Homo sapiens: one gene and its partners. The protein of the gene in region 1 interacts with the protein of each later gene in a biochemical or structural test. Each region holds a gene or a part of one and is shown in the gene's direction. Other genes may lie near its edges. The genes, in order: COL3A1, MAG, PDGFB and THBS1.

The links.
Region 2: the proteins of COL3A1 (region 1) and MAG form a complex in vitro, tested with the Homo sapiens proteins (one study listed by BioGRID).
Region 3: the proteins of COL3A1 (region 1) and PDGFB form a complex in vitro, tested with the Homo sapiens proteins (one study listed by BioGRID).
Region 4: the proteins of COL3A1 (region 1) and THBS1 form a complex in vitro, tested with the Homo sapiens proteins (one study listed by BioGRID).

What each region holds. Positions count from the first base shown.
Region 1 is NC_000002.12:188,998,340-189,005,372, forward strand, and holds part of COL3A1 (collagen alpha-1(III) chain preproprotein), read left to right. Parts: intron 1-334; coding exon 335-379; intron 380-945; coding exon 946-1,044; intron 1,045-1,130; coding exon 1,131-1,238; intron 1,239-1,502; coding exon 1,503-1,556; intron 1,557-3,057; coding exon 3,058-3,111; intron 3,112-3,196; coding exon 3,197-3,250; intron 3,251-3,958; coding exon 3,959-4,012; intron 4,013-4,615; coding exon 4,616-4,723; intron 4,724-5,071; coding exon 5,072-5,125; intron 5,126-5,394; coding exon 5,395-5,448; intron 5,449-5,642; coding exon 5,643-5,804; intron 5,805-5,917; coding exon 5,918-6,025; intron 6,026-7,010; coding exon 7,011-7,033. UniProt on the Homo sapiens protein: Collagen type III occurs in most soft connective tissues along with type I collagen. Involved in regulation of cortical development.
Region 2 is NC_000019.10:35,309,150-35,314,329, forward strand, and holds the end of MAG (myelin-associated glycoprotein isoform a precursor), read left to right. Parts: intron 1-724; coding exon 725-1,012; intron 1,013-1,397; coding exon 1,398-1,494; intron 1,495-2,768; coding exon 2,769-2,868; intron 2,869-3,131; coding exon of another isoform or gene 3,132-3,164; exon of another isoform or gene 3,165-3,176; intron 3,177-4,140; coding exon 4,141-4,305; 3' UTR 4,306-4,658; downstream 4,659-5,180. UniProt on the Homo sapiens protein: Adhesion molecule that mediates interactions between myelinating cells and neurons by binding to neuronal sialic acid-containing gangliosides and to the glycoproteins RTN4R and RTN4RL2.
Region 3 is NC_000022.11:39,222,831-39,227,987, reverse strand, and holds the end of PDGFB (platelet-derived growth factor subunit B isoform 1 preproprotein), read left to right. Parts: intron 1-2,140; coding exon 2,141-2,265; 3' UTR 2,266-2,293; intron 2,294-2,674; 3' UTR 2,675-4,629; downstream 4,630-5,157. UniProt on the Homo sapiens protein: Growth factor that plays an essential role in the regulation of embryonic development, cell proliferation, cell migration, survival and chemotaxis. Potent mitogen for cells of mesenchymal origin.
Region 4 is NC_000015.10:39,576,163-39,584,098, forward strand, and holds the start of THBS1 (thrombospondin-1 precursor), read left to right. Parts: upstream 1-4,916; 5' UTR 4,917-5,066; intron 5,067-5,545; exon of another isoform or gene 5,546-5,666; 5' UTR 5,667-5,695; coding exon 5,696-5,762; intron 5,763-6,030; coding exon 6,031-6,590; intron 6,591-7,454; coding exon 7,455-7,530; intron 7,531-7,825; coding exon 7,826-7,936. Other genes in the region: uncharacterized protein LOC124903470, read left to right, coding at 4,156-4,590. UniProt on the Homo sapiens protein: Adhesive glycoprotein that mediates cell-to-cell and cell-to-matrix interactions.

The sequences.
Region 1 (7,033 bases):
CAAAACTCAGAAACAAAAAGAATACACACTGTTTGTTTGTCAACTATTAACTTCTTAATTTTCTTATGCCATGATATTTGAGATTTAACATTTAGTTTTGAAATATTATCAAAACAAAGACAAATTATTTAAAAGATAACTATTATATAGAGTTTGAATTTTACCATAAAATAGAGAGTTCATAGTTTCAAGATTTGAAAAATTATACAGTATGCCAACATGACAAATGTGTATTTTGCTTATATTTACATATTTGCTTATATTTACATATTTGCTTATATTTACATAAAATGCACTCTGATATGGGCCTAATCATATAATGCCAATCTCCCAGGGTCCAAAGGGTGATGCCGGTGCACCTGGAGCTCCAGGAGGCAAGGTAGTATTTCAATTTATTCTCTACCTTCTTCAGCAGGTTATAGAGCAATTGATTAGTAGTATATTTTTAGTATATCAAGCCAAAATACTCTTTCTTTAAAAGAGCATCATTGCAAATGTTTGGTAAGTACACTTAGAGAAACTCAAGACACTTTCAATACATTAAATTTGCTTTAATCTGGAAGGTCCAATTCTCTGACATTCATAATCACTACAGAATCAAATACGGGCTTAAAATTTCAAACGGAAAAATATTGCCAATATGTTGATTCTATGTAGGAAAACTGTTTTGGTAAAAAGAACTTTAAAATGTTGCTCTTGTGAATAAAATAATAAGTATTTCAATGACAGCTCACACTTAACCAGACTAAGTATCCAAGTTTTATTTTAGACACTCTTTTAAGCTTCTAGTTCCCACCCAGCTGTTCAACTATTTTTAAGTATACAAATTTCTAGATTGTTCACAATATAATAACCTAGTGGCCTGATTCAAAATGATGCAAGTTAAGGTGCTTTGTTTTTAGCTTTGGGTTGTCTAATATGGTTATTTACATATTTTTGTCACAGGGTGATGCTGGTGCCCCTGGTGAACGTGGACCTCCTGGATTGGCAGGGGCCCCAGGACTTAGAGGTGGAGCTGGTCCCCCTGGTCCCGAAGGAGGAAAGGTAACTCCACAGCATTCCATTCACCTAGGTTTAAAAAATGCATTTGATTTCCTTCTGATCATTTATTATTTCTCACTTATTTTCAGGGTGCTGCTGGTCCTCCTGGGCCACCTGGTGCTGCTGGTACTCCTGGTCTGCAAGGAATGCCTGGAGAAAGAGGAGGTCTTGGAAGTCCTGGTCCAAAGGGTGACAAGGTGTTGACTTGTTTTCTCTTAATTGTTCAATAAATCAGTCATTGTAGGTTTTAAAAAAAGCAACACTCCTGGAAAGTAATCGACTGTATTTTCAAAATTAATGTTATCATTTTATAGTAAGTGAAATTTAAGATGGATTCCTAAAGCAACAATGAATTAGAACACCCAATATATATCCCTACAAATCCTGAGAGTTACTCCTCTTCTTGGCTGATTTTCACTGAAGATACTTTGAATCTGATGACATTGGCTTTTATTTGACAGGGTGAACCAGGCGGTCCAGGTGCTGATGGTGTCCCAGGGAAAGATGGCCCAAGGGTGAGTATTCCCAGTGAGGAGAAGCAGGCCTTATCTATATGTCATATGGGACAGTCCTGCACTTCAACTTTAATTTTTTCCAAAAACTACTCAAGAGAAATTAGATATTTTACCACCTAAAGACCCGAATGACTTGATTTATAATGAAATTTGTGGTCTATATCTATGGCTACTTGATAGATCTACAGTGACTAAAGAATGAAAAAGCCTCAAGAGTACGATAAAGGTCACAAACTAGCATTTGTGAGTCACTAAAATCTGAGATAATCACTGAAATTTAGGATAATCAATGCTGCTCATTAAGAAACTAAAAGTCATCAAAATTCAATATAGTAAGTACTCCTCATTAATAGACTTAATATTTAAAAATTGTATAGTATTTAGCAACAAAAAGGAATGAACAATTGATGCTGTACACACAGCAAATTATACAAACCTCAAGGACAACATACTCAGTGAAGAAAATTCAGTCACCAAGGGATACATACTGCATGATTCCATTCCTACAATATTTGCAAAATAACTTCCTTGTAGAGATGTAGAACAGATTAGTGGTTGCTAGCAGTTAAGAATGAGAAAGAGAGAGATGGATGTGGCTATGGAGACATGACACAAGGGAGTCTTATGGTGATTGCACATTTGAGTATCTTGATTGAGGTGGTAGTCAGGCACATCTACACATGGGATAAAATTCTATAGAGCTACATATACACACACATAAATGAGTGTGTGTATCACTGGTGAAATCTGAACATGCTCTATGGATGGTATCAATGTCAATTTCCTAGTTTTGATATTATATTATAGTTGTGTAAGATGTTAACATTAGGGGACGCTGGGAGAAAAGTGCACAGAATTTCCCTGTATATTCCTTTGCAGCATCCTATGAATCTATAATTCAAACTAAAAGTCAAAAACAAAACAAAAAACATCTCCTAAATATGATTATAATTAAGTCTTTTAATAAATTTATATAATAGTTGCCTTAAAGAAATTCATAAATGCTTCGCTTTTGACAGACTAAGTAGATAAGCCGTCATTCAGGTAAAAAGAGTGCTCAATACTTCAGTTTTGTAATATAAGTAAAACTACTATTTGAAAATTTCAAGTTGAAAAATTTAATATGTACAATGAGACTTTGAGAAAACATTTAAATTATCAAGCAATTGAATAAAGAAATGTACTTTAATTTAAAAAGACATTACTGTAAGATCTTACATGACATCCTATTTATCTTCTACAATGGAGATAAAGATAAATGAATCAATAAACTATTGCTGAATCCTATTTTCTCCCAGAGTTATCCCCAAAGAGGCTTGTGTTTACTGAGCTCTGCAGTATTTACACATTGAGAGAAAAGCATAGCATTCAAGCCATAAAAATTTTTAAAAAGTATGTTATCTAGTTTATTAGGTATCTATGTCTATATACTTTCTGTTTGATTAATGCAAAAAACGATATTTGTATCTTCAAAATTAAAAAATATTTTTATTTCCTCTAGGGTCCTACTGGTCCTATTGGTCCTCCTGGCCCAGCTGGCCAGCCTGGAGATAAGGTAACCCTTAATACTACCTGGATATAAAAAGAAAATGTCTCTCTCTTTTGGATGCAAGACAGTGACATGGCTTCTCTTTTTCCAGGGTGAAGGTGGTGCCCCCGGACTTCCAGGTATAGCTGGACCTCGTGGTAGCCCTGTAAGTGTTAAAGACATTCTCAACATACTTTTTAACCCCATACAGACAGTAGCTACTTATGCTTCCCTTTTTGGCAGTTTTGCCCTCAGTTCCCTGAGCCTCAATTTGGAGATATTATCTTCAAAAACCATATAAGGAACCATATAGCATGCAAGGGAATGTTAAATTTCTTAAATCTAACATTCACAGGAGACCATTTTAAATCAGGATTTCTTTCCTAAATAACTTTGGAAAAAATACATGAATTGCACAAGTAGTACATGTTTGTAATTAGGTATTTCTTAAGCCTATAGAATCTTTGCCTGAGACTCCTTCTAGATTTAAAAGTCTTGACCTTCAGGATTTAAGACTCTGGAAAGATATTTAGTAAATGGTTTTTAAAAATAAATCAGTTAATTTTTCAGTTAAGCTTCTACCATATATTGAAATACATAAATATCTATATATATAAATGTGTTAAATACTTTAAAATTCTCAAACTATTTTTCTTGCAAATAATATCACAGTAGGAGGCAGAAGGAATCAATGGTTCTGGTATTTTCCACTCCTAATTTTATTGAGAAGTGGCAAAGTCTTCAGAAGTTTATTGGCTACTCTGCACATTTCCTGCTTAAAGGAAAGAAAAGATAAGATGATAAGATGACATTTCCTGCCTAAAGGAGATGACGCACACTTCACTGTGACTAAGGAGGATATTTTTCTCTTCAGGGTGAGAGAGGTGAAACTGGCCCTCCAGGACCTGCTGGTTTCCCTGGTGCTCCTGTAAGTGTGAATATTTATACATACATGTCCCATAGCCCAGGATCTCTATCTTGCTGAAAAATTACAAAAGTATAGTCAAGTTTGGTTTCTAGTCTCATTTTAGCTGCTCATTCCCTATAGGATTATTGTACCCCTATTTTGTTTTACTTTACCCCTATTGTCGCTCTTTGAAAGATGGAAATAAAAACACCTGTCCTGCTTTTATGACTGGGTAATGAACTAAAGCAGTATCATGGATTTAAAAGCACTCTGAATTTTTGTAAATTCTTCCATTATAAGATGGTACTAATTAAAATTTTCTCTTAAATCCGGTCTTTCTCAAAAAAATTTACTGGTGCTGATTTTCAAATGTTTAATCCTTAGAGACACTTCCTCCCTCCCTAATGGCAAATAATGCACAGTTTATGCTTTCTTGGTCATGTTCTTTGATCATGAAAATATTTTGATTGGCTTCATTTTGTCATGTCTTCAGAAAGCCTTGTTTTTAAATTTTATTTCAACTCCTTCCATCTGAAGAATTCTATATTCTGAAGAGAAATAATAATAAGCCAATTGTATCATAAAGAGTGTCAGCTGAGAGATTGCTGTTGTTGTTGCATGTAGGGACAGAATGGTGAACCTGGTGGTAAAGGAGAAAGAGGGGCTCCGGGTGAGAAAGGTGAAGGAGGCCCTCCTGGAGTTGCAGGACCCCCTGGAGGTTCTGGACCTGCTGTAAGTTCCTTCCTCTTTCTCTGTCTATCTATCTATCATCTATCTATCTATTGATTATCTGTCTATCTCTCCCTCTCTCTCTCCCTCTCCCCCCTCTGTAAGTCCTAAGTGTTCTAATGGAAAAACATGGAGGTTTATCAGTAATTTAATATTTTATACTGAGATAGCATGTCATAGTGTCAAGAATATAATCTTTATATGAATATAGTCCAAGTATGAATCTCAGCACCAGCAATCTAAAAGTTATTTTAACCTCTTCATAGAGTTCCTGGTTTTCAAAGGCTTAATGCTTTTCCCAAATTTTGATTTTGGTGCTATTCTTACATAATTTCCTTCCATTTCATATAGGGTCCTCCTGGTCCCCAAGGTGTCAAAGGTGAACGTGGCAGTCCTGGTGGACCTGTAAGTATTGATCCTCTTAACTATTATTGAAAAGCATTAATTGATATCAACCTGTATAAAAGCTGCATTTGAGACACTAGTTCCATAAAGAGAATGTAAAAATTGTAATCGCTCATTCATACATGAGTTATATGTAAATTCCAAGGGGAAACACAAACCATAAATGACTTTCAGGTACAATGCAGATCATGCCACACATTATACTTTTTGTTTGTTGTACAGTTATTTGTTCTACTTTTGAAATTCAAAAATATATTACCATTTCACAGGGTGCTGCTGGCTTCCCTGGTGCTCGTGGTCTTCCTGGTCCTCCTGGTAGTAATGTAAGTAATTGTTAAAGTCTTTTCTCATCATACACTTCAGAAAGAGCATTCATGTATGTATAGGATGAGAAACTTACACATTGCTACTTATTTCTCTAGTAAGTCTCAAATAAAATTATTTGAAGTAAGTAAAAAAAGAAAGAAAAAATGCACTTTTTATTATAAATATTCAAATTTCAAACAATTATTTGTAGGGTAACCCAGGACCCCCAGGTCCCAGCGGTTCTCCAGGCAAGGATGGGCCCCCAGGTCCTGCGGGTAACACTGGTGCTCCTGGCAGCCCTGGAGTGTCTGGACCAAAAGGTGATGCTGGCCAACCAGGAGAGAAGGGATCGCCTGGTGCCCAGGGCCCACCAGTAAGTAACTTCATTTTTTTAAATTGATTCTACTATTTTGATTTTTATCACAAATCGATTAGAGAAAAACACTGTCACATAAAGATGAGCTAAGTCTTCATTATCTGTATTAGGGAGCTCCAGGCCCACTTGGGATTGCTGGGATCACTGGAGCACGGGGTCTTGCAGGACCACCAGGCATGCCAGGTCCTAGGGGAAGCCCTGGCCCTCAGGGTGTCAAGGTGAGTATAGTCATTTTCCACTACACTCTTCCTTCCTTTGGTAGCCTTCAGAGATCACTTAACCATATCAAGGATGAAAAGTTTTTCTGTCACTGGAGTAAATTAGCCAGGAGATAATTTTTTTTTATTTTTAGATTTTTAAAAGCATAAATTTTAATAAATGGCTCCAGAACACAAAACAGGGCATATCATAGACAAACCTTGAATATAAACACAAATAAATTAATATGATGAAAACAATATTGCCATCTCAAACACCTCTTTTAGGAAACTTGTGAATATTCTTCAATTTGTTGACTGTCAGTTTTGAAGGGGGAAATAGTGTTAGCTTATAGATCTTGGAAAGTCTTTCATTAATGCTAGTTATCCATCCATTCAAGTCATCTTGCACTCCTGACTCTCTTTCACTAGTATTATATTCCTATAACATTCTAGTGCTTAGCATCTAAAACATTCGTTTGGTAAACAGGATAATAAAATTGCATTTTTATTAGGGCTCGTATTATGGCACTTTAAGTACTTCTTTCAACAAAATGTTATGTAATATTGTCATAAAATTAATATTTCATATTTAAGTGTGTTCAATTGATATGATATTTCTGGTAAGTGTATATTCTTCAGATAGAGACAAATAACCTAATTTTAAGGATCACCATACACCTCTAGTTTCATGATGGCTCATTATTGTTTTTCCCTATACTAATCATGTTTATGTATTCATCTCAGATTACAATGTACAGTATTCTGAATTAGATAATCAATGTAACTATTCAGCCCTTTGCCATCCAGAGTCACTGAGCAAGTTAGAAAATGCAAGAAGCTTGCTCCCCCATATTTTTTCCCATAGCAGGCATAGTTTTAATTTTAAAATTCAATGAAGATTAAATAAAATAAGTTTTTTACCTGAAAATAAAGATATCTGATAACACCATTTTAATTGATTTCTTAAGTTGAAACAAAATGTTTTTCATTCCTTTGTATACAGGGTGAAAGTGGGAAACCAGGAGC
Region 2 (5,180 bases), on another chromosome or scaffold:
CAGGCTGAAGCTGAGGCTAGAGTCGCCTCAAAAGTGGCACCAGAAGAATTGCCCCAAGAGAGCACCCCAAACCACCCCGAAATGAGGCCACTTGGGATTCCAAAGAGAGAGGCACTAAACCACCAGGTGATCATCAGTCCAAAGCATTTGGGAGGGGAACTTGCACAGTGCTACGGCGAGAGAAAGGGAGGGTCTACCCAGACACGTCCGTGAGGGTCAGGGTATGGGTTTACATGAGGGTTTAAGGAATTTGGCCCAGGGCTGGGGCTGGTTTCTTTCATTCTTTCATTTTTGTTGTTGTTGTTGTTTGGGGTTTTTTTGAGACAGCGTCTCATTCTGTAACCTCTCGTACTCCTGACCTCAAGTGATCCACTCACTCTTCGGCCTCGCAAAGTGCTAGGATTACAGCAGTGAGCCACCATGCCCGGCCTCTTTCAGTGTTTTGAGCAACAACCTAAACACCTTTATCAGTGCCTGGGAATGTTCAAGGCCCCAGGCGTGGGTTAGTGAAGCTTGCAGTGAAAACAGGCAGCCGGCGGGGTCGTAGTGAGGTCAAGGCGCTCTCAGTCAGGACAGAGAAAAAAGGAGGGGAAATTGGAGGGCCCTACAGGAAGCTACCGCCCCCATCCTTGGCCACACTGGCCTTGCCTTGAGCCAAGGAGTCTCCGGGGCCGGGCCTCGCGTTGGCTCCGGGCCACCCTCAGACCTGATTTTGCCCCTGCAGTCGCCCCTGTGCTCCTCCTGGAGTCCCACTGCGCGGCAGCCCGAGACACGGTGCAGTGCCTGTGCGTGGTGAAGTCCAACCCGGAGCCGTCCGTGGCCTTTGAGCTGCCATCGCGCAATGTGACCGTGAACGAGAGCGAGCGGGAGTTCGTGTACTCGGAGCGCAGCGGCCTCGTGCTCACCAGCATCCTCACGCTGCGGGGGCAGGCCCAGGCCCCGCCCCGCGTCATCTGCACCGCGAGGAACCTCTATGGCGCCAAGAGCCTGGAGCTGCCCTTCCAGGGAGCCCGTGAGTGGCGTGGACTTGGGGTGGGAGCCACAGGAGGGAGCGGGCACGTCTTAGATCCAAGCTCCCAAGGCTGACCAACAGCCACAGAGCATGGGCTATGCAGATTGACAGAAAGGTCAAATTCTCCCTTTCCGGTTGGAGAGGAGAAGCCGCCCTGAGTTTGCCCCGAGTTTGCTAGGACCTTTGAGGCATGAGCCCCTCCCCAGGGCCCTCTAGCATGAAAGGGATTGCCCTGGCACGAGGAGGCTCCGTGCCAATCAGTCAGTGCAAGGATGCCCCGGCTGTGTGACTACATTGACTGTCATCCCAGCATGTCTCCAAAGTTCTCAGGTGTCGTCACCACCACCCATAGCCCTAAGGGCGCCTGGGTCTTTTCTGTCCTCAGATCGACTGATGTGGGCCAAGATCGGGCCTGTGGGCGCCGTGGTCGCCTTTGCCATCCTGATTGCCATCGTCTGCTACATTACCCAGACACGCAGGAAGTGAGTGCCAGCTGGGGCTGATCTGGGGATGGGAGTCTCCAAAAAGGGGACCTGGTGGGAGATGGAGGCCCAGAGTGGGTGGGGGAAGGCAGCACCATAAGTGTAGAGAAGGCAGATTCTGTTCTGGGAATGTTCAGCTGGACAGAGGAGAGAGGGTTCCTGTTAATTCCAGCCCCTGCTGGTCAGGGGCACACCAGGGCCTGGGCTGAGCCCTTTACACACATCATTTGAGACCTGTTTGCCCACATTCTATTTTGACAGCCTCCCTATCTCTAGGAACTCTCCCCTACACACTCCAGTGTGGTGGGGAAAGCCCAGGTACCCCACTGCAGCCACAGCAGCAGGTCCACTTGACGCCAGAAGCCCCAAAGATTACACACATCTGGGGCAAAAAAAAAATAGGCCTTGGCCGGGCGCGTTGACTCACGCCTGTTATCCCGCACTTTAGGAGGCCAAGGAGGAAGGATTGCTTGAGGCCAGGAATCTGACACCAGCCTGGGCAACATAGCAAGACCACATCTCTAAAAAAAATTTTTTTTTAATTAGCCAGGCATGGTGGCACACACTGTAGTCCCAGCTACTTGGGAGGCTGAGGTGGAACGATTCTTGAGCTCAGGAATTAGAGGCCAGCCTGGGCAACATAGGGAGACCCCATCTACAAAAAAACAAAAAAATTAGCTACTAGTGGCACGTGCCTGTTGTCCCAGCTACTCGGGAGGCTGAGGAGGGAAGATCGCTTGAGCCTGGGAGGTTGAGGCTGTAGTGAGCTATGATTTCACCACTGTACTCCAGCCTAGGTGACAAAGAGAGACCCTGTCTCTAAAAACAAACAAACAGACAGACAGACAGACAGAAAGCCTCTCCAGCCCCAAACCATACCCACCTGGCCCAACTCAGCTGCAGCCGTGTTTCTTTCTTGTGGCACACACACATCAGCTGTCCTGAGAAATAAATTAACCCCTCTGCTCCACATCCTGGTGGCAAGAGGGGCAGAAAGACCCAGAGCCTATGAGGGGAACCTGGAGAATCCAGGTGGGGGTCCTGAAAAACGGCAGAGCTCAGGGGCCAGGTGGCTCGTCCCCAGCCGGGCAGGGGCCACAGAGGTGGGAAGGATGGGCTGTGTGGGTAGGAGAGGCTGGTGGTTCTGAAAGGGCTGCTTGCCACATCTTAGAGATGGGTGGGAGAACTCTGAGGTCCCCTGAGCCAAACTCCTAAAACACGTGGGGGTGCAGAAAGGGAGGGCAGAGAGAGGTCTGACGAGTCCTGCCCTGCAGAAAGAACGTGACAGAGAGCCCCAGCTTCTCGGCAGGGGACAACCCTCCCGTCCTGTTCAGCAGCGACTTCCGCATCTCTGGGGCACCAGAGAAGTACGAGGTAAGGACCAGGCTCCAGGCTGGCCTGGGAACCTGGATGCCAGGGACACTGAAGGCCTGGGAAAGGCCTGTGAGGCCAAGGGGCAGGGGAGTGGGAGCGGCCTCTCACAGGAGGAGAGGAAGGACATTCCAGGGCTGGGTTGGACCTGGAGGCTGGGGAGGAGGTGCCCAGGCCGAAGCTGTGTAGGGGGCGATGGGACGTGGGGCCTAAGGGCCCCCTCCCCTCCCTGCCTGTGTCTGTGACTGCATTTCCTTCTCCAATAGTCCAAAGAGGTTTCTACCCTGGAATCTCACTGAGTGCCCCAGGAGGTAGGTTCCGGGGGCCTCAGTGTGCCCTCCTCTGGGCCCTCCTTGGGCCCTGGGGTTGGCGTGCATGTCCGTGTGTCCCTGTCAGGCGTCAAGGTGGTCTCTGGTGATGTCCGGGCCTGCCCGGCAGTGCTGGCCTTGTCTAGTCTGTCCTGTTGCAGCTCCCTTCTGTCTGTGGCCACCGTCCTGTGTGTCCAAATTCCTGTGGCTAGGGGGTGGAGGGAGGGGTGGGAAGCGTGGGGGGAACCCACATGTCACCTGCAGGACCTCCCAGATTGAGGGCGGACCCATGCAGGACCCATGGGGGGGCACGTACCAAACCAGGTATTTCCAGGAATTTGGAAAGATGGGGTCCTGACTAGGTGGTTTTCACCCAAAAAGGTATTAGGGGTTACATTGTGTGCCCTCAAAACTCCTATGTTGAAAGCTTCCTGGACGGGGGCAGTGGCTCACACCTGTAATCCCACAACTTTGGGAATCTGAGGCGGATGGATCACTTGAGGTCAGGAGTTTGAGACCAGCCTGGCCAACATGGTGAAACCCTGTCTCTACTAAAAATACAAAAAATTAGCCAGGCGTGTTGGCAGGTGCCTGTAATCCCAGCTACTTGGGAGGCTGAGGCAGGAGAATTGCTGGAACCCAGGAAGTGGAGGCTGCAGTGAGCAAAGATCGAGCCATTGCAATCCAGCCTGGGTCTCAAAGAAAAAGAAGAAGAAGAAGCAGCTTCCTGGAGAAACTGAATTTGTAGGCAAATTTCAAGTTCAGCAATGATTAACACTGGCAGAAGCTCCAGAGTGGGACCTGGTGACCGCAGGGCTCGCTGGGCCTGCGGTCCTTGAGAAAGGAGGTTCTCGCAGGGATTTATTTGGGACTGAACTCAGGAGCTCTGAGGGTGCAAACGCTCTGTCCTCTGCATTGGGAAAAGGCAGGGAGCAGGACCCTGCTAATGGGCGGTTTCCCCTCTTAGAGCGAGAGGCGCCTGGGATCTGAGAGGAGGCTGCTGGGCCTTCGGGGTGAGCCCCCAGAGCTGGACCTGAGCTATTCTCACTCGGACCTGGGGAAACGGCCCACCAAGGACAGCTACACGCTGACGGAGGAGCTAGCTGAGTATGCTGAAATCCGGGTCAAGTGAAGGAGCTGGGGGCAGCCTGCGTGGCTGACCCCCCTCAGGACCCTCGCTGGCCCCCACTGGCTGTGGGCTCCCTTCCTCCCAAAAGTATCGGGGGCTGGGGCAGGAGGGGAGTGAGGCAGGTGACAGTGAGGTCCTGGGGGCCTGACCTCCCCCTCCTTCCCAGCTGCCCCTCCCTGCCAGCACCCCCACGCCCTCATTACGGCTCCTCTCTAACCTCCTTTACCCTCATCTGTCTGGAGGGGAGCTCTGTCTGTCCGTGTTATTTATTGCTACTTCCTGCCTGGTCTCCTGCCCCCACACCTGGCCCTGGGGCCTGTACAAAAGGGACATGAAATAAATGCCCCAAAGCCAAATGCCAGTCTAGATCCTGATGCTTTCTGACCCGCCTTTGGGCAGCCTGCCATCCCACCGTCTACAGAACGATGACAGAATTTCTCCTTGCCCTCGGCTGAGCCTGGTATGCAGGCAAGGGCCCAGGGATTTTAGCCTTGAACCCAGGGCCAGTGGCCACTAAGTTGCTCCCACTCTGAGCTGGTAGCTGCGAGCTGGGTCTGGTTTGACTTATGGATGATTTCACATAAAAATCCTCATGCTGGTTTTTGCCGCAGTCAGATCAGCTGACAGCACCAGGCTTGCACTTGTACGTGGACATGACTTGCTGAAAGGGAGGGTCCTGTGCACTGGCCGCAGTCCCCACCACTCCCTATTGTCCCACACCTGGCCGGCTTCCTGCACTGAGATTACCTCCTGGTCCCTGCAGCTTGGAGTGCGAGCCACAGATCTAGGTCTCACCAGCCCGTGTTGGTTTCACCACCATCTCTCACATTCATGCTGCAATTTGCAGCGTCAGCCTTTATACATCACTACATTCAGTT
Region 3 (5,157 bases), on another chromosome or scaffold:
GGCTCTGGGGAAGAAACTCCCTGGGCCCTTCAGTGGCCCTCCTGGTGTCTTCTGTCTGAGGGGATCTGAAGCCCATTCAAGTCCCTGAACTGCTAGAAAATCTGCGCAATTGCAGAGATGGGAGAGCTGCCTCGTGGGAGCTGGTGTCTGTAAGGTGGGAGGTCAGGTGTCAGATCCCGGTAGGCTGGGAGAGCTCAAAAGGCTCCCAGGAAATGGCTGGCCTTGAGCTCAGCAGACACAGCTGTCCCTGCCAGGGTGGCCACCTGGGAATCCAGGACGGAGAGAAGTGTATAAGAGCTCCCCTTGACTGAGGCTCACAGGCACTGTCGTTTGTGCTGAGTGGTTGGAGGTGTGCACTCTAGAGGCAGATCCCTGAGTTCAAATCCCAGTCTCTCTGCTTCAGTTTCCTCATCTGTAAAGTGTGGGTAACAGCATCTGCCGGTAACAGCACCTGCCGTGAAGGGAAATGAGCATAGAACAGCACCAGGTACATGGTAAACACTAGCTGGGGGGTTTCTGGCCATTTCCATGTATTGTCTCCTAACGCTAGGAGGCCAGGGCTGCTGTCTTCTCTGCTTTAAAGATGTGGAAATCGGCTGGGCGTGGTGGCTCACGCCTGTAATCCCAGCACTTTGGGAGGCCAAGGCAGGTGGATCACTTGAGGTCAGGAGTTCAAGACCAGCCTGGCCAACATGGTGAAACCCCATCTCTACTAAAAATACAAAAATTAACCAGGTGTCATGGCGTATGCCTGTAATCCCAGCACTTTGGGAGGCCAAGGCAGGTGGATCACTTGAGGTCAGGAGTTCAAGACCAGCCTGGCCAACATGGTGAAACCCCATCTCTACTAAAAATACAAAAATTAACCAGGTGTCATGGTGCATGCCTGTAATCCCAGCTACTCGGGAGGCTGAGGCAGGAGAATCACTTGAACCTGCGAGGTGGAGGTTGCAGTGAGCTGAGATCGCGCCACTGCACTCCAACCTGGGCAACAGAGTGAGCCTCCATCTTAAAAACAAATAAATAAAGATGCGGAAATCGAGGCACAGGGCAGTTAAGTGACTTGCTCCAATGTCCACGATACGTGGGAGAGCCCAGATTTGAGCCCAGGTGGGTCAGATCCTCAGCCTGAGTTGTGGCCCATCCCACTCTACCATTTCTCAGAGTGGCAAGGGGCAGGTAGGTGACAGGCACAACTGACCCGAAGGCCCAGCTTCATGGTGGGAGTATGATTCTGGCCCAGAGCCCAGTGGCCTCCACACCACGTGATCGGACGGGGCTGAGAGGTTGGGAGGAAACCTCAATAGTAGGTCAAGCTAAGGAAAATAAGAAAAAAAAGTGAGTCGTAGCAGCTGCCATGTGCTGACCACTTCATACTTGGAGCTTTTTATTATCTTTCCCAGGTCTGGGGGTTGACTGGGCTCAGCTGGGCAGTTCTATTGGCCCCTCTATTGGTTGCAGTCAGCTGGTGGCCTGGGCTGTGGTCATCTGGAGACTCAACGGGGACAGCTGGGCCTCTTTTCCTCTCCCTGTAGTCCAGGGCCTCTGGCTCTACGGGGAGAGCCAGTCCCCACCAGGCCTCTCCATGTGGCCTCTCCAGCAAGGTAGCCAGACCTGTTATGTGGCAGCCCAGGGTCCCCCAAAGCATGAAGGTGAGAACTGCCAGCCCTTCTTAAGACCTCTGCCTGGAACTGGCACGGCACCACGTCTGCCTCTTGTTGGTTAACCAGATCCAACTCCAGGCCAGATTCAAGGGGCAGGGAAATAAACTCTATTGGTCAGTGGGCAATGACAAAGAACTTGAAGCCATATTTAATCTACCCGGCTCTGTGTCCAGTACTGTGCAAAGAGCTTTGCCAGCATACTGTCATTTATTCCTCCCACCAGTTCTATGAGGTGGGCAGTCTTATTACCCCCATTCCACAGATGGAGGCGCCAAGGCTCAGAGAGTTTCAGTCATTGTCCCCAAGGCACATACAGCTGGTGAGCAGTGGAGTTGGGATCCAAACCCAGGACCCTGGTCCAGATTCCCCTCCTGTCCCTTTCCTGAGCCCAGAAGGTCCATGGCAGGCCTTGGTCAGTGGGGAGAGACCTCCCCAATGGTCCACATGCTGACGAGGTCTTTCTTTTTCTTGTGCAGCCAAAACGCCCCAAACTCGGGTGACCATTCGGACGGTGCGAGTCCGCCGGCCCCCCAAGGGCAAGCACCGGAAATTCAAGCACACGCATGACAAGACGGCACTGAAGGAGACCCTTGGAGCCTAGGGGCATCGGCAGGAGAGTGTGTGGGCAGGTGAGGGCCAGGCGGGGCAACTGAGGCCCAGAATCCTGTGTTTTCTTCTCTGTGGTCTGTGGATGGGGTCAGGGGAAAGGATTTTTCCATAGAAAATCCAGCCTCTGAGCCTTGGTCCTCCCTGTCCAGTTATCAGCTGGGGCAGGGTGGGTGGTGGGCTTTGGAGACCCCAGCCCAGCTGTGTCCCAGCATGCCCTAAGAGGATGGGAGGTCTAAATCTCAATCTTCCCAGCCCCTCAATGCCCCCAGCCCTGAGCATTGCTGGAAATCAGGGGTGGCTAGTTGACCCCAGCTCCCTGCCCCTGGCATCGGGGACATATGAACATGGGATGGACCCTCTAGGCTGTCTCTGACCCCTGTGTCTCTCTGCTTGGCCTGCAGGGTTATTTAATATGGTATTTGCTGTATTGCCCCCATGGGGTCCTTGGAGTGATAATATTGTTTCCCTCGTCCGTCTGTCTCGATGCCTGATTCGGACGGCCAATGGTGCTTCCCCCACCCCTCCACGTGTCCGTCCACCCTTCCATCAGCGGGTCTCCTCCCAGCGGCCTCCGGCGTCTTGCCCAGCAGCTCAAGAAGAAAAAGAAGGACTGAACTCCATCGCCATCTTCTTCCCTTAACTCCAAGAACTTGGGATAAGAGTGTGAGAGAGACTGATGGGGTCGCTCTTTGGGGGAAACGGGCTCCTTCCCCTGCACCTGGCCTGGGCCACACCTGAGCGCTGTGGACTGTCCTGAGGAGCCCTGAGGACCTCTCAGCATAGCCTGCCTGATCCCTGAACCCCTGGCCAGCTCTGAGGGGAGGCACCTCCAGGCAGGCCAGGCTGCCTCGGACTCCATGGCTAAGACCACAGACGGGCACACAGACTGGAGAAAACCCCTCCCACGGTGCCCAAACACCAGTCACCTCGTCTCCCTGGTGCCTCTGTGCACAGTGGCTTCTTTTCGTTTTCGTTTTGAAGACGTGGACTCCTCTTGGTGGGTGTGGCCAGCACACCAAGTGGCTGGGTGCCCTCTCAGGTGGGTTAGAGATGGAGTTTGCTGTTGAGGTGGCTGTAGATGGTGACCTGGGTATCCCCTGCCTCCTGCCACCCCTTCCTCCCCACACTCCACTCTGATTCACCTCTTCCTCTGGTTCCTTTCATCTCTCTACCTCCACCCTGCATTTTCCTCTTGTCCTGGCCCTTCAGTCTGCTCCACCAAGGGGCTCTTGAACCCCTTATTAAGGCCCCAGATGATCCCAGTCACTCCTCTCTAGGGCAGAAGACTAGAGGCCAGGGCAGCAAGGGACCTGCTCATCATATTCCAACCCAGCCACGACTGCCATGTAAGGTTGTGCAGGGTGTGTACTGCACAAGGACATTGTATGCAGGGAGCACTGTTCACATCATAGATAAAGCTGATTTGTATATTTATTATGACAATTTCTGGCAGATGTAGGTAAAGAGGAAAAGGATCCTTTTCCTAATTCACACAAAGACTCCTTGTGGACTGGCTGTGCCCCTGATGCAGCCTGTGGCTTGGAGTGGCCAAATAGGAGGGAGACTGTGGTAGGGGCAGGGAGGCAACACTGCTGTCCACATGACCTCCATTTCCCAAAGTCCTCTGCTCCAGCAACTGCCCTTCCAGGTGGGTGTGGGACACCTGGGAGAAGGTCTCCAAGGGAGGGTGCAGCCCTCTTGCCCGCACCCCTCCCTGCTTGCACACTTCCCCATCTTTGATCCTTCTGAGCTCCACCTCTGGTGGCTCCTCCTAGGAAACCAGCTCGTGGGCTGGGAATGGGGGAGAGAAGGGAAAAGATCCCCAAGACCCCCTGGGGTGGGATCTGAGCTCCCACCTCCCTTCCCACCTACTGCACTTTCCCCCTTCCCGCCTTCCAAAACCTGCTTCCTTCAGTTTGTAAAGTCGGTGATTATATTTTTGGGGGCTTTCCTTTTATTTTTTAAATGTAAAATTTATTTATATTCCGTATTTAAAGTTGTAAAAAAAAATAACCACAAAACAAAACCAAATGAATCCGCCGGAGGTCTGTCTGTTGGCATCGTGCGTGACAATTAACCTTTCTGCCTTGGCAGGATGTGCCGACAGCTTGCGGCGTGTTCCTCTCACTCTGGGAGCCTCAGGCGTGATCTCACACACTGGCGTGCACATACACACACACACACATACATGCTCACACATGCGTGCACATACACGCAGGCCTGCAACTTGGGGGAGGCCTCTGTCTGGCGGGAAGAAGAGACACACAGGCTACTCTGTTGGTCTTGGTCCTGGCACAGCTCCTGACACGTGGACTTGTGCGTGTCTCTGGCAGTGACGAGAGATGGGTTTCTGCAGCCTGAGGGTCTCCATAGAGGAAGTGGATCCTCAGCATCGTGGGGTGGGCTGGATGTGGGGAGGGAGTGCCCACTGTGGGGAACACTGAAGGAAGTCCCAGAGGGGATGTGGGATTTAGAAGGAAACAGTGGAAAGCCGGGTCTGCGGTCTGGTCTTGGCTTAGCCCTTAGCCAGCTGTGTGGCCTTGGGCAAGTCACAGACCCACTCTGGCCAGAGAGGATGAGGAAAGGTGCGTGGGCTCCAAGCTCCTGTGTTCTGCGCTTTCTCTTGCTCATGAAGACTTGGGTACCAGCCCATAAAAAAGAGGCTAAATGTATTCTAGGTCCCACCTGCAGCGTGGACTGGGGCTGAGAGGGACCCAGAAGCTAAAGATCTGGCTCATAAGGGCAATCTAAAACTAAAACCATTTTGCCACCTGAAGTAGTGAGCTCCCTGTCACTGGAAGTGTGTAAGCGAAAACTGGGGAACAATGTGGCTGAGGTTAGACTGAATAACATTTGGGCTCCCAGCAATTGATTGATCAATGGA
Region 4 (7,936 bases), on another chromosome or scaffold:
AAAGCTTCCACGCTGAAACCCAAACCAGACCATATTTAGGATGCCCCATAAGGTGGCATTTTTTACTAAGATGATAAAGGATAAACATTGGTGGAGCCAGAGAGGCTGCTCCCAAATACAGTCCTCCCCATCAGCAACACTGCAGTAGCCTGCACCTATCGTCCAGAGTATGAAAAAGACTTTTGCCAAAGACGGCTTTTGGGGATTTATCATTATTACATGTTAAGAGCCTGTTCTCCATGTCCTCACCTTCCTACCTTGCTAATCTTCCCCATTTCCATCTTTCGGCCCAGTGTGAGACCTCACCATCTCCTTTTCCCATCTTCTTTCCTCCATACCCTTGGTTTCCTAGCAGGTCAATGCCCCTGCCCCTTCACTGGAATCCATCCATCCTGGTTATTCTTTTCTTTATGAACCTGCTGGACTACATCTCAAAGTTACCCAAAAGAGGGATACAAAGACACAATAAAATCGGAAATAACGCTCACCCTTACCAGCCTGCAGTTAAGAGTGTGTGGAACTAGGGTGGCTGCAGGCAAAGAGATAGGGGGAAGGGCTGCCTCATGCCATGGGCAGGACAGTAAATGGTGCAAATTTTCTGGAAAGCATCTTAGTAATATAGGTGAAGAGCCTTTACAATGTGTTTATCCTATGACCTATCCTTACTTCTCTTATTCTAAAGGAATAAGAAGAGGTTTAATCAAAGCATGAGTGAAAAGGCCATCCAAACACAGGGAAAGGGGCCGTTATGATGTCTACGGTTCTAAGAAATAGAAAACAACAACTTGGCTTAAATAATAAGCACATAACCAAAGAAATCTAGAAGTAGGATTCCCTTAAGAGTTGAGAGATTTAGCAGCTCAAAAATGTGACCTGACATACGAGTTCTTTCTATGCTTTTGTTCTTCCTCCTCCAACACTGGTTTCACACTAAACTTGGCTCCCCAGTGGCCAATAGCACCAAACAGCACTTATCGGCATTCTTGTTGGTATCCAAAAGAGATGGAGAAAGCCTGATTTCACATGGCTCTTCCTTAAAAGCAACAAAGGACTTTTCCCGGAAGCCTTCAGCAAACCTCGTCAGATTTGAATCACATGCCAATTCCTAAATCAGTCACTGGCAGGGAAGTGGGAAAAAGGGGAGGAGGTGTTTACCCTTAACCAATATGCCTACCCCTGCCCACTGAGATCAATTCCATAAAAGTATTGCTTCAGTTCTTTGAAGAGGAGTACAATGTTTGTGAGTCACTCACCACATTTACCCACCAAGAGCTAAGGGATAACTGAGTAAAATGGTAGAGCTGGTAGGAAAATGGTGAGTAGTCCCGTCCTTCTGTGCCATAATTGACTTGTACACAAAGAGATTTGGAAATTTAAACATAAGAACTCTCTCTTCCCAAGCCCAGGGCTTTGGGCACTTCAAGTCTGGTCCTTGCCTGGGCACAGTGGCTCACGCCTGTAATCTCAGCAATTTGGGAAGCCAAGGAGGGTGGATCACCTGAGGTGATGAGTTTGAGACCAGCCTGGCCAACATGGCGAAACCCCAACTCTACTAAAAAATACAAAAATTAGTTGGATGTAGTGGCACACGCCTGGAATCCCAGCTACTCAGGAGGCTGAGGCAGGAAAATCGCTTGAATCTGGGAGGCAAAAGTTGCAGTGAGCTGAGATTGTACCACTGCACTCCAGCCTGGGAGACAGAGCAAGACTCCATCCCACCCCCCACCAAAAAAAAATTCTGGTCTTTACATGTGAAAAAATAAAAGCTAATTTTTAAAAACTAAATAATAAAGAGTGTTAGGTGATAAGTTTTATGATAGAGATAATGTGTGCTTTAAAACACACAGCATAAAACAGATGGAAAACACCTCATGGAGAAGGGAGAGCTTGAATTGGTGTTTGATTGAAGGACAAGAAAAATCTGTTGGTAACTTCCTCCTGGCTCTGACCTCTGATGCAGTTAAAGTAAAGCAACTTAGAATTATGATCTAGGGAACATATTCAGAGAGAAATGAATTTATGATGTCTTCAATTTGAAGATGCTATGATTTTAGACTATTCTAGAATACAATGATTTTTCATTGCTTCACACTTGTAAGAAATGTTCCACTACTGAAAATTTGCAACACTTAAAAAATTCCTACACAAAATCACAGCCCACCTTGCTGTTCTATGCTAAATAAACAAAATATTTTTTCTCAATTATGTTGCTCTCCTTAATTACACGCAATTTTAAAACTAGCTGTAACTGACAGCCCTTTCCTCACACTTACTGCCAATGTATTTAGGTCAATCCCACCTCCAATTAGAGAAACTTAGAAAAAGGAAATCCTACGGTGAAATGCCATATGCCTTACAATTTTCAGTAACTAATCCTCAAGGATGACAACTTGGCAAAAAAGAGAACTGGACCAGCTCCCTGAAAGGTCCATCACTTCGGCCCATGTTAATTGATTGCCTTAAAATCACAGTGCTTCCAGGTTGTAGAGACACACTCAAAATGGACTATTGCCCTCACATTAAAGGGGATAGGTTTTCTTTTCCCTTTTCCCATCCCTGCTTCTCTCAAAGCTGCACAGAGGTATATGAGGTTTGGGGAATATTTGCAGCACATGTTGGCTGGCAAGAATGTGGGTGAATTCCTGTTAAGGGGCGCAGACACTCCCTCTTCTATGACCTTTCCTTTCCACCCAGAACAACTGAAGTATCATGATAAGAGGAAGGGCTTTGTGTTTGAGATAAGCAGCTCCTATACCTGTCAGCTTTCTCTAATAAGAAAGCTCTTTCCTGCCACCGTATAGGTCACCTTCTTATTGGTAAAGCATGATGAAGTTTGGAAACTGTTGTCCTTGTTTTGTTGAAAGAAGCCAAGTTCCAAGAAATCTGCAGAGGCATTCCTACAATCCCTCAGCCATGGCAGCATGAATCCTGAAGGGGCAGTGAGTGCTGGTTTCTACTCTGTCTGCACAGCTAAGCCTAGGGGAGATAATCTTTTCATACAAGATGCATTCTGCTTTTGTGGGCCTCTTGCAGCCCTCAAGCCCCCATCTGATTTGTACACAATGATCCAGTGGGCCAGAGGAGCCCAGAGCCATGAGCGGCCCATCCCTCCAAGAACTATTTCTGACTGTCCAGTATCATGGAGCAAGTGGAAAGAAGAAAAAAAAAACCCAATTACTTTTCGAAGAGCAAGATGAATGCTGTAGAAGGAGAAGGAAGGGGAGGGAGATGGATGGGTGCCGATTCCAGAATCTTCAGATCTGCTTGGATGAATCATTACCTATGATTTGCGGGACAAGAATCTGATTTTATTCATCAACCAGTAGAAACTTTTCTTTCTGCCTCCCAACATCTGAAATCCAACAAACATGTGCCTTAGGAACATACCGGTCATCTTTTAGAGGCATTTTATATACATATTGAGTAACTAGAAAACACTCTTTCCGTAATACACACACACACACACACACACACACACCATCTTGTCATACAACACTCCCACGCAAGAAAAGCGAAACTGCTGTTTGATGAATGTAAACACTTGGCTGTTTGCAGCAGTCGGGAGTCCTGCCAGGTTTAAGTGCTAAGATGGGAGGTGAACCCCAGGGGTTTCCCCCTGCCCGTGCTGAGATCCTTATTTGGTCAAGCTTCTACCTATGCCCTGGCCTCGGAGCGAGCCCGATAGCGCTGGATCACAGCAGAGGGAGCGAGGCGGCTGACGTCCCATCCCGAAGAGATGAATGGAATTCCAGGAAGCTAGAGTCATGCTGGCTTGGGACAGTGGCTTGGAGACCAGACTTCAATGACAGAAGCACTAGGCAGCGGCACTCATGGCAATGTGTGCACCCACAGAAATGTAACCCACACCTCGGGTTCAGGAGCCGAAAAATGAAAAGAACGTTTAGGGAGGAAAAAGGGAAATACAATAATAGGCAGAGAGTAATTTATTACTCTATGGGTCTGCTCTGTAAATAGCTGAAGACTCTGGAGCCAGATGGTTCTGCAAATTCTCCAAACAGGAGTCACGTTAAGAAGCACGAGTGGGCACAAAAACTGTTTTTCAAGACACAATTTCAATTTGGCTTGTGGAAACTGGATACGAGTAAGTTTCCTTAAAATTCGAGTAGAAAGCAGCTGTCCTCCCCGGGCCCCTTGATGAGAATACGCACACCGCCCCCAAGCGGCCGGCCGAGGGAGCGCCGCGGCAGCGGGAGAGGCGTCTCTGTGGGCCCCCTGGCAGCCGCGGCAGGAAAGGGCCCGAAGGCAGCGAAGGCGAACGCGGCGCACCAACCTGCCGGCCCCGCCGACGCCGCGCTCACCTCCCTCCGGGGCGGGCGTGGGGCCAGCTCAGGACAGGCGCTCGGGGGACGCGTGTCCTCACCCCACGGGGACGGTGGAGGAGAGTCAGCGAGGGCCCGAGGGGCAGGTACTTTAACGAATGGCTCTCTTGGTGTCCCCTGCGCCCCGTCGGCCCATTTTTCTTTTTACAAAACGGGCCCAGTCTCTAGTATCCACCTCTCGCCATCAACCAGGCATTCCGGGAGATCAGCTCGCCCGAAAGCCCCTGCGCCACCCCGCGGGCCCTCCTAGGTGGTCTCCCCAGCCCCGTCCCTTTTCGGGATGCTTGCTGATCACCCCGAGCCCGCGTGGCGCAAGAGTACGAGCGCCGAGCCCGTGCGCGCCAAGGCTGCGTGGGCGGGCACCGACTTTTCTGAGAAGTTCTAGTGCTCCCAAGCCCCGACCCCCGCCCCCTTCACTTTCTAGCTGGAAAGTTGCGCGCCAGGCAGCGGGGGGCGGAGAGAGGAGCCCAGACTGGCCCCCACCTCCCGCTTCCTGCCCGGCCGCCGCCCATTGGCCGGAGGAATCCCCAGGAATGCGAGCGCCCCTTTAAAAGCGCGCGGCTCCTCCGCCTTGCCAGCCGCTGCGCCCGAGCTGGCCTGCGAGTTCAGGGCTCCTGTCGCTCTCCAGGAGCAACCTCTACTCCGGACGCACAGGCATTCCCCGCGCCCCTCCAGCCCTCGCCGCCCTCGCCACCGCTCCCGGCCGCCGCGCTCCGGTACACACAGGTAAGTCGCCCCCGGCGGCCGCCGAGGACCAAAGCTGCCCGGGACATCCACCTGGAGCGCTGAGGCTTCAGTCCCTCTGGTGGACCCCGGAACCTACACTCTCCCCGCTCGCCTACCCCAGCCCGCTCCTCTCAGCCGCTGGAGGACTCTTCAGGGCAAGGCTCCAGAGCCATCCTCTCCAGCCTTGAGGTTCACAAACCAACTCATCAGGACACCCCAAGATTTCCTTACTCTCTGAAGTCCTCCTTAAGCCTTTGTATCAGCACTCCAGGGAAGAGTCTGTACTTCCCCTGCCCTCCCTGCAACCCCAAACTACAGTTCCTGATCTTGCTCACCTTCGACTTCCCAAAAGCCCCCAAATTGTTGGTCTTGCGCCCCCCACACTTTAAAACCAGCATCTCTTTCCTCCACCTCTCTCTCTCTCTCTCTCTCTCTCTCTCATGCTCTCTGGAAAGTAATCCTGTTGTCCTTCATTTCAGCAAACGCGGGGTCAAAGAGGGATGGTCCCGGCCCTGTCCCCATGCCCAGCCCCGTTTCTGCGCACCGTCCCTCCCTGCCTAGCTGATCTCTGACCCTCGGCTCTTGTGCTTCCTGCTACAGGATCCCTGCTGGGCACCAACAGCTCCACCATGGGGCTGGCCTGGGGACTAGGCGTCCTGTTCCTGATGCATGTGTGTGGCACCAACCGCATTCCAGGTGAGTTTGTGTGGCACCTTTAGGGGAAGGAGGGACAAGGAAGAGGTGCTGGCTATCCCAGGTGTGCCCCCTCACGTGCTGTCCTCTCCCTCTTGAGCCTGACTGGACATCAGGACGCAGCTTCACTCTGATCCTGGTATTTATTCACCTCTTTCAGTGGTTGCCAGGAGTTTTCACCCCAACCCTTTGTCTCCACCCCTAAGGACTCAGCCCCCTACTGCTGGTCCCAGCCTAGAAAGCTCACTTTGTGTTCTCTCCTGTCTAACAGAGTCTGGCGGAGACAACAGCGTGTTTGACATCTTTGAACTCACCGGGGCCGCCCGCAAGGGGTCTGGGCGCCGACTGGTGAAGGGCCCCGACCCTTCCAGCCCAGCTTTCCGCATCGAGGATGCCAACCTGATCCCCCCTGTGCCTGATGACAAGTTCCAAGACCTGGTGGATGCTGTGCGGGCAGAAAAGGGTTTCCTCCTTCTGGCATCCCTGAGGCAGATGAAGAAGACCCGGGGCACGCTGCTGGCCCTGGAGCGGAAAGACCACTCTGGCCAGGTCTTCAGCGTGGTGTCCAATGGCAAGGCGGGCACCCTGGACCTCAGCCTGACCGTCCAAGGAAAGCAGCACGTGGTGTCTGTGGAAGAAGCTCTCCTGGCAACCGGCCAGTGGAAGAGCATCACCCTGTTTGTGCAGGAAGACAGGGCCCAGCTGTACATCGACTGTGAAAAGATGGAGAATGCTGAGTTGGACGTCCCCATCCAAAGCGTCTTCACCAGAGACCTGGCCAGCATCGCCAGACTCCGCATCGCAAAGGGGGGCGTCAATGACAATTTCCAGGTGAGGCTTCTTCTCTGAGCCCTGCTCCGTGGGATCATCTGCTAGACAGGTGACCTGCCAGGAGGGCTACAGGAAATCCTGTCTGTAAACTAACGCAGCAGTTCTCAGATTTTAGGCAGCATGAGCATCACCTGGAGGGCTTGTGAAAGCTCACCCTGCTGCACCCCAGCCCCAGAGTCTGGGATTCTGTAAAACTGCAACTCTAACAAGTACCAGGTGATGCTGATGCCGGTGGTCTGGGAAGCACACTTTGAAAACTACTCAAGGAAACAAGAAATGGTTTTCCTTTAGCAGTCAGCCTGTTCAAGCCTTAGATACTCCTTAGGCTCTTAAGAAAAGAGCTTATTTCAAATGCATTCCCCCAATTTTAATCTTGTTTGAAATGGATACTTTCTATGGGCAGAATCAGTACCACTTTGCTATTGGATTCCTCATGGGGATGCAGCTGGTCTCACATAAAAGGTTAAAATAGCAGTTAGTTGTTGCTGTTACAGCTTCATCTGTGCCTTAACTTCTAGATCTTTGCAACGGTGGCTTTGAACTCCCACATTTAACTCTTTGACACTGGAAAGTGTCATTATATCCTCTAGGCTTAGGATCAGATTCCATTTCCTGTGTACCCAAGTAGGCTGATAACTGAATTCTTTGTAAAATACTCAAGACTTGGCAGAAGTCACAATTAAGATTTTGAAGTTGTTTGGCGATTAATGTTGCTGTGTTATTTTGACATAGTGATCTTAAGACAGCTCTTTGAAGCTTTTAGAACATCTATTGTATGCTTTTCCTAGCATACAGACAGTCTCCCCCAACCCCATCCCCACCCCGCTCTGCATTCTACAAGTAATGTGTGTCCTCTGCCCACAGGGGGTGCTGCAGAATGTGAGGTTTGTCTTTGGAACCACACCAGAAGACATCCTCAGGAACAAAGGCTGCTCCAGCTGTGAGTACCCCTCTATTTTTAGGGCACATAGGGAATCAGGGGGAATTCCACCAAAAACAAACTGAGGAATTTAGCAATAGTGGTTATACATAAATTACCCCCAGTGAGATCATCAAGAGGCATACAGAAGTGACTCCAAGGGGTATTATACACACACACGTATACACACGTGCGCATACACGCAACCCCTCTACCTGCATCCTTCACACCAAATGAAACGTCTTCTACCACTAAGAACTCAAGAGGCTGGTTGGTAAGAGTATCTATTTGAAGTTTTCATTTTGTTTCTTGCCAGCTACCAGTGTCCTCCTCACCCTTGACAACAACGTGGTGAATGGTTCCAGCCCTGCCATCCGCACTAACTACATTGGCCACAAGACAAAGGACTTGCAAGCCATCTGCGGCA